Homo sapiens: one gene and its partner. The protein of the gene in region 1 interacts with the protein of each later gene in a pairwise test. Each region holds a gene or a part of one and is shown in the gene's direction. Other genes may lie near its edges.

The links.
Region 2: the proteins of PCDH1 (region 1) and ATF7IP interact in a two-hybrid assay, tested with the Homo sapiens proteins (one large-scale study listed by IntAct).

The regions. Positions count from the first base shown.
Region 1 is NC_000005.10:141,861,293-141,865,110, reverse strand, and holds part of PCDH1 (protocadherin-1 isoform 2 precursor), read left to right. Parts: coding exon 1-1,879; coding exon of another isoform or gene 1,880-1,963; exon of another isoform or gene 1,964-2,459; intron 2,460-3,818. UniProt on the Homo sapiens protein: May be involved in cell-cell interaction processes and in cell adhesion.
Region 2 is NC_000012.12:14,494,364-14,498,181, forward strand, and holds part of ATF7IP (activating transcription factor 7-interacting protein 1), read left to right. Parts: intron 1-1,867; coding exon 1,868-1,980; intron 1,981-3,290; coding exon 3,291-3,710; 3' UTR 3,711-3,818. UniProt on the Homo sapiens protein: Recruiter that couples transcriptional factors to general transcription apparatus and thereby modulates transcription regulation and chromatin formation. Can both act as an activator or a repressor depending on the context.

The DNA.
Region 1 (3,818 bases):
TGTGGCAGAGGAGACAGCTGTGGCCCTGGTGCAGGTGTCTGACCGAGATGAGGGAGAGAATGCAGCTGTCACCTGTGTGGTGGCAGGTGATGTGCCCTTCCAGCTGCGCCAGGCCAGTGAGACAGGCAGTGACAGCAAGAAGAAGTATTTCCTGCAGACTACCACCCCGCTAGACTACGAGAAGGTCAAAGACTACACCATTGAGATTGTGGCTGTGGACTCTGGCAACCCCCCACTCTCCAGCACTAACTCCCTCAAGGTGCAGGTGGTGGACGTCAATGACAACGCACCTGTCTTCACTCAGAGTGTCACTGAGGTCGCCTTCCCGGAAAACAACAAGCCTGGTGAAGTGATTGCTGAGATCACTGCCAGTGATGCTGACTCTGGCTCTAATGCTGAGCTGGTTTACTCTCTGGAGCCTGAGCCGGCTGCTAAGGGCCTCTTCACCATCTCACCCGAGACTGGAGAGATCCAGGTGAAGACATCTCTGGATCGGGAACAGCGGGAGAGCTATGAGTTGAAGGTGGTGGCAGCTGACCGGGGCAGTCCTAGCCTCCAGGGCACAGCCACTGTCCTTGTCAATGTGCTGGACTGCAATGACAATGACCCCAAATTTATGCTGAGTGGCTACAACTTCTCAGTGATGGAGAACATGCCAGCACTGAGTCCAGTGGGCATGGTGACTGTCATTGATGGAGACAAGGGGGAGAATGCCCAGGTGCAGCTCTCAGTGGAGCAGGACAACGGTGACTTTGTTATCCAGAATGGCACAGGCACCATCCTATCCAGCCTGAGCTTTGATCGAGAGCAACAAAGCACCTACACCTTCCAGCTGAAGGCAGTGGATGGTGGCGTCCCACCTCGCTCAGCTTACGTTGGTGTCACCATCAATGTGCTGGACGAGAATGACAACGCACCCTATATCACTGCCCCTTCTAACACCTCTCACAAGCTGCTGACCCCCCAGACACGTCTTGGTGAGACGGTCAGCCAGGTGGCAGCCGAGGACTTTGACTCTGGTGTCAATGCTGAGCTGATCTACAGCATTGCAGGTGGCAACCCTTATGGACTCTTCCAGATTGGGTCACATTCAGGTGCCATCACCCTGGAGAAGGAGATTGAGCGGCGCCACCATGGGCTACACCGCCTGGTGGTGAAGGTCAGTGACCGCGGCAAGCCCCCACGCTATGGCACAGCCTTGGTCCATCTTTATGTCAATGAGACTCTGGCCAACCGCACGCTGCTGGAGACCCTCCTGGGCCACAGCCTGGACACGCCGCTGGATATTGACATTGCTGGGGATCCAGAATATGAGCGCTCCAAGCAGCGTGGCAACATTCTCTTTGGTGTGGTGGCTGGTGTGGTGGCCGTGGCCTTGCTCATCGCCCTGGCGGTTCTTGTGCGCTACTGCAGACAGCGGGAGGCCAAAAGTGGTTACCAGGCTGGTAAGAAGGAGACCAAGGACCTGTATGCCCCCAAGCCCAGTGGCAAGGCCTCCAAGGGAAACAAAAGCAAAGGCAAGAAGAGCAAGTCCCCAAAGCCCGTGAAGCCAGTGGAGGACGAGGATGAGGCCGGGCTGCAGAAGTCCCTCAAGTTCAACCTGATGAGCGATGCCCCTGGGGACAGTCCCCGCATCCACCTGCCCCTCAACTACCCACCAGGCAGCCCTGACCTGGGCCGCCACTATCGCTCTAACTCCCCACTGCCTTCCATCCAGCTGCAGCCCCAGTCACCCTCAGCCTCCAAGAAGCACCAGGTGGTACAGGACCTGCCACCTGCAAACACATTCGTGGGCACCGGGGACACCACGTCCACGGGCTCTGAGCAGTACTCCGACTACAGCTACCGCACCAACCCCCCCAAATACCCCAGCAAGCAGGTAGGCCAGCCCTTTCAGCTCAGCACACCCCAGCCCCTACCCCACCCCTACCACGGAGCCATCTGGACCGAGGTGTGGGAGTGATGGAGCAGGTTTACTGTGCCTGCCCGTGTTGGGGGCCAGCCTGAGCCAGCAGTGGGAGGTGGGGCCTTAGTGCCTCACCGGGCACACGGATTAGGCTGAGTGAAGATTAAGGGAGGGTGTGCTCTGTGGTCTCCTCCCTGCCCTCTCCCCACTGGGGAGAGACCTGTGATTTGCCAAGTCCCTGGACCCTGGACCAGCTACTGGGCCTTATGGGTTGGGGGTGGTAGGCAGGTGAGCGTAAGTGGGGAGGGAAATGGGTAAGAAGTCTACTCCAAACCTAGGTCTCTATGTCAGACCAGACCTAGGTGCTTCTCTAGGAGGGAAACAGGGAGACCTGGGGTCCTGTGGATAACTGAGTGGGGAGTCTGCCAGGGGAGGGCACCTTCCCATTGTGCCTTCTGTGTGTATTGTGCATTAACCTCTTCCTCACCACTAGGCTTCTGGGGCTGGGTCCCACATGCCCTTGACCCTGACAATAAAGTTCTCTATTTTTGGAGTTTTGGTTTCTTATTTTCTGGAACTGAGAGAAGCAGCGAGAGAGACTGGAAGCAGCCCTTTGTCCTCAGGTCCTACCTCAATTTCCCCTTCCCTTCTCTTTGCCTCTTGCCACATCCTAGACCTGCCCATTGTACCCCACACTATCTTAGCCTACCATCTTGCCATCCACCCCCATGTCCCTATCCACGTCTGGGAAAGTGGCCTTCTGACCAGCCTTCAAATGGAGGTGTCTGGCAATGTGTCCCCTTGCCCCATGTCTATAGGGCTTTCTTCCTAAGAATGACCCAGAAAGGGCAGGTGGAGCTATACCCAAGTCCTGCCCCATCTGAGGCTTGATTTTTCCAATCTGCTCAAACAGTTGCCTCTGACAGACCTCAGACTGGAGCACCTGGTAGGGAGTAGCATTCAGCCTTCCTTCCTGCCTTAGGTGAAGGCAGAGAACCTCTTGATTACACCAGCCACCTTCCCCCAGGGCAAGTCCTTCCCTCAAGTCCCTTCCCCAGCCTCTTCATCCCAACAACAGGCAACACCCAGCAATTCGCTGGCCCTCCCCTGTGTCTCCCCACCATGATCACCAGCCTGAGCTGCAGGGAGCGGGGCCCTGGGGGAGACATGGCGAATTCCTAAGTTCTTTGCATTGACCTGCCCTGCACCCCCACTCTTAGGGGGTTCCCTGCTCATGAGCAGAGGCTTCCTAGTTCTGCCTTCCGCCTGTGATGCTACCTCCCTCCCCACTTTCCACTCCTTGCTCTGGCCACCCTGGGTTGCTTGCTTGCACTCTCTCTCTCTCCATCTCTCACTTCTTGCTCTCCTGGGTCTGCCCTGTCTCTGGTTGTGCCTGAGTTGGAGGAAGGCTAAATCGTGGCTGAGGGGCCTCAGGCCCTGGGGGAGTCTCTGAGGCCAGAGGCAACCTATCTCCATGGTGACTAAAGAGGCTTGAGACACTCCCAAGAGGACCAAGGCTCCAGCTCTCTCCTCTGATTCCATCCACAAATTCCCCCAATGCCCTGGGGGGCCCCCAAAGTAAAAACTCCTTGGGTCCTTGGAGGAGTGGGGCCTGGGGAAGTGAGATCTAACCATATCGTGATCTCCAGCAACTCCTGACCTCCCATTCTTTCTCTTCCTTTTCTGTCCTTTCTGGCATTCCTTCCGTCTTTCTCCTATTCCTTTAGCGTCTTCATCTCTTTTTCTTTCCCATGATCTGAGGGATTGTCTCTTACTCAGCTCTAATCCAACCTAACCCATCCATGGAGCCACACTGAATGTCTTCTCCCAACATTCAGATACAACCAAACCACACCACCTGTTGTCATCATCAACACACACAGGCCAAGTTTCCACTGAGTACTCAGCATGG
Region 2 (3,818 bases), on another chromosome or scaffold:
TGTTTCCTATATATAGTATTCATATAATATATACTATATATAAACTAATAGGATATATATATTTTATATATTATATATGTATTAAACTAATAGGGTATATACATAAAATATATACTACATATAAACTAATTGTATATATACTTTATATCCTACTATATATATACAGTATATCTTAATTATATATAAATATTAAATATATGTAAAATACTTTATATATAGTGAATGTTTATATATATAAAGGGGAGTTTATTAAGTATTAATTTACATAATCAGAAGTTCCCACAATAGACTGGGCATGGTAGCTCACGCCTGTAATCCCAGCAGTATGGGAGGCCAAGGCAGGCAGATCACTTGAGGTCAGGAGTTCGAGATGAGCCTGGCCAACATCGTGAAACCTCATCCCTACCAAAAATACAAAAATTGGCTGGGTGTGGTGGCACAAGCCTGTAATCTCACCTACTTGGGAGGCTGAGGCAGGAGAATCTCTTGAGCCCAGGAGGCGGAGGTTGCAGTGAGCCGAGATCATGCCACTGCACTCCAGCCTGGGCAACAGAGCCAGACTCTGTCTCAAAAAAAAAAAAAAAAAAAAAAAGATCCCACAGTAGGCTGTCTGCAAGCTGAGGAGCAAGGAAGCCAGTCTGAGTCCCAAAACTGAAGAACTTGGAGGCCAATGTTCCAGGGCAGGAAGCATCCAGCACAGGAAAAAGATGTAGGCTGGGAGGCTAAGGCTAAGCCTGTCTCTCCTTTTCACGTTTTTCTGCCTGCTTTATATTTTCTGGCAGCTGATTAGATTGTGCCCACCAGATGAAGGGTGGATCTGCCTTCCCCAGTCCACTGACTCAAATGTTAATCTCTTTTGGCAACATCCTCACAGGCCCACCCAGGGTTAATACTTTGTGTCCTTCAATCTAATCAAGTTGACACTCAGTATTAACCATCACACATATGTTGTAGTTTTGCAAAATGTGACAGCAAGGGAAAATATAGCTATTTAAAGAAACACAGTAATGCTATCATTTAGAAAATAAACTGATTGGAGTCCCTGGATCATAGCTTGGCTTCAACTCTCTCAAGTTTACAAGAGCGTTGTCTGGGAAAATTAATCAACAAGGTTAGAAATGAGTTCTGGGAAACTTGGCTCACTATAGTCCAGGAACCAGGCCGAACTACAGCATGGGCCAGGTACTGAATAAATGGCAGGAATATAGTTAGGGCAGTAGGTGGCTCTAAATTTTCTCTTTTTGTTTCCCTGGTGTATGTCACAGCAGTTTTCTGTGGGGTGAAGTGAGTATCCTCAACCAAGGAGCTGGGCATGGAGAAAATGAGAGGAACCTCATTAATACATGGCAAGGATGACTTATTCTGGCTTTCTGTCCTGGTTGAAAAGATGAGACTGCAGAGATTTTTATGAAGATACTCCCAGTTTGTCTGTCTTTTGAGTCACACTGCTCCATTATGGCCATTTACCTTTTACATGTGGTACACAACCAGTGTTCTAGGATTTTTGTTCATAGTTCTCCTGGTAACGATCCATTTATTTCTCCCTGTGCTGGACCTCCTGTTGCTTGTGTCTCGTGTTTTTCTCTTTATTTTCTCACGTACTGGTGGCACATATTCTCCATTGACTATTTGAGAAAGGGTTTGTGGTAGTTAGAATTTTTTTTTAGTGCTTGCATGTAAGAAAGTTTTTTTATCCACAGGCTGATTGATAGCTTGGCTGAATACGAACAGGACCTCTAGGTTAGAAATATCTTTCCTTTCGAATCTTGAAAACATTGCTTCACTGCCTTCAAATATTTAATCAGTTTTCCACCAAATTTACAATAGAATTATCATTTTATCCTGTAATTTTTTTGTTTGTTTGTAGGTGTTACAGTTCGAGTGCCTCAAACAACCACATATGTTGTAAACAATGGACTAACCCTGGGATCAACAGGACCTCAGCTCACAGTGCATCACCGACCACCACAAGTGCATACTGTAAGTGTTGATGCTTGGTTTTGCAAAATTCTCAACTGTAGAGGTATAAAATATTATTGTATTTGGCATTTTTCTTTAAAATGGTTATATCCAAGGGAAGTGTTAGGTCTTCCTGCTTTTTCAGAAGTTTATTTCTAAAAATTGATCTTACCATTATGAACACATAGTTCCTAGGGATGATGATCATTTAGAATCATTGAGTTTGCTTGTGGTGTACAGTGTACAAAAACAGGTCCACAGTTGGGGTATATGAAGTGAAATATAGACCATTTCTAATTCATAGTTAAATTAAAAAGGACATTTTTCATTTCTCCATGTGTTAATTTTATTCTTTCGTTCTAAACTATGCCACATCTAACTGCTACATTGTCATCAATTAATTGTTCTAAAGAATCCAATGATATTGGGAATTCATTAGTTAAGAGGTAACAGAGATAACCAAAGATTTCTCCTTAGATTTAGCCTCCAAAACAATGTCACATTATCCTGTGACACAATTTTGTCAGTGTTTGACTGGTATGAAATATCATTATAATGATGATGATGTTCCAGTGTTAGAAAAGTCAATAGGACTTCCTAAAGTTAGAGTCATGTTTTTTCATCATCTGGCCTTAACCTACCTTTCCAGATTTTTCTTCATGTACCCTATGTCCAAGAAAAAGTTAATACTTGTTCTTGTCCATACGTCCCCTCACTTTACTGTCCACATGCCTTTGCTCATGCTTTATTTTTGGCTGAAAGGTACATGATTATTTCTGCATCTCTGGATCCTCCTTCACAGTTGAGTTTAAATATCACCTTTTTCTTGTAAATTGGCCAAGAATATAGTACACATTTAGTGTTAATGTGCTTATTTATAAATAACTTAAAAATGAAAGTATATTTGTATTCTCCAATTTTATATGATCTTGGTTGCCATACATGATATTTAAAAATGTTACATCATACTGAAATGATAATCTGTAACATAGATAATTCAATCATAAATTATTTTGTTAGAAATAGATCATTACTTCCGTGTTCCTCAAAATGATGTTCCGTCAGCAGGGGCTTTTTATTTCCTAAGAAAAACTCAAAATATTTTAGGTCTAGGAAGTATAGTAGGAATAACCTCAGCATCATTGTTTGTAGCATGATTCATTACAAAACCCCAAATAGAACTTGCCAAATTTGATATGGTATTTGGTATTTCCTAGAATTCTTGATATAAAATGATACTTCTACGTATGTTCTCTAAGGTGTTTTAATTCTAACATTCTAAAATAGTTCTTTTTGCAATCATCATTAATCAGTGTGACCTGTTTCTTCAGGAGCCCCCACGCCCCGTGCACCCAGCACCCTTACCAGAAGCTCCACAACCACAGCGTCTGCCCCCAGAAGCTGCCAGCACATCTCTGCCTCAGAAGCCACACTTGAAGTTAGCACGCGTTCAGAGTCAAAATGGCATAGTACTGTCATGGAGTGTCCTGGAGGTGGATCGAAGCTGTGCCACTGTTGATAGCTACCATCTCTATGCTTACCATGAGGAACCCAGTGCCACTGTGCCCTCACAATGGAAAAAGATTGGGGAAGTCAAGGCACTTCCCTTGCCCATGGCATGTACTCTCACCCAGTTTGTATCTGGTAGCAAATACTACTTTGCAGTACGAGCCAAGGATATTTATGGACGTTTTGGGCCTTTCTGTGATCCTCAGTCAACAGATGTGATCTCTTCTACCCAGAGCAGTTAAACCTTGGAGCCTTTATATTTTCCTCTTTTAAAATTTCCACCTTTTGGTCTTGTTTTTAATCTTGTGCATGATACCCCATGTAAAATCCACCTTGTGCAAGATTTCTTG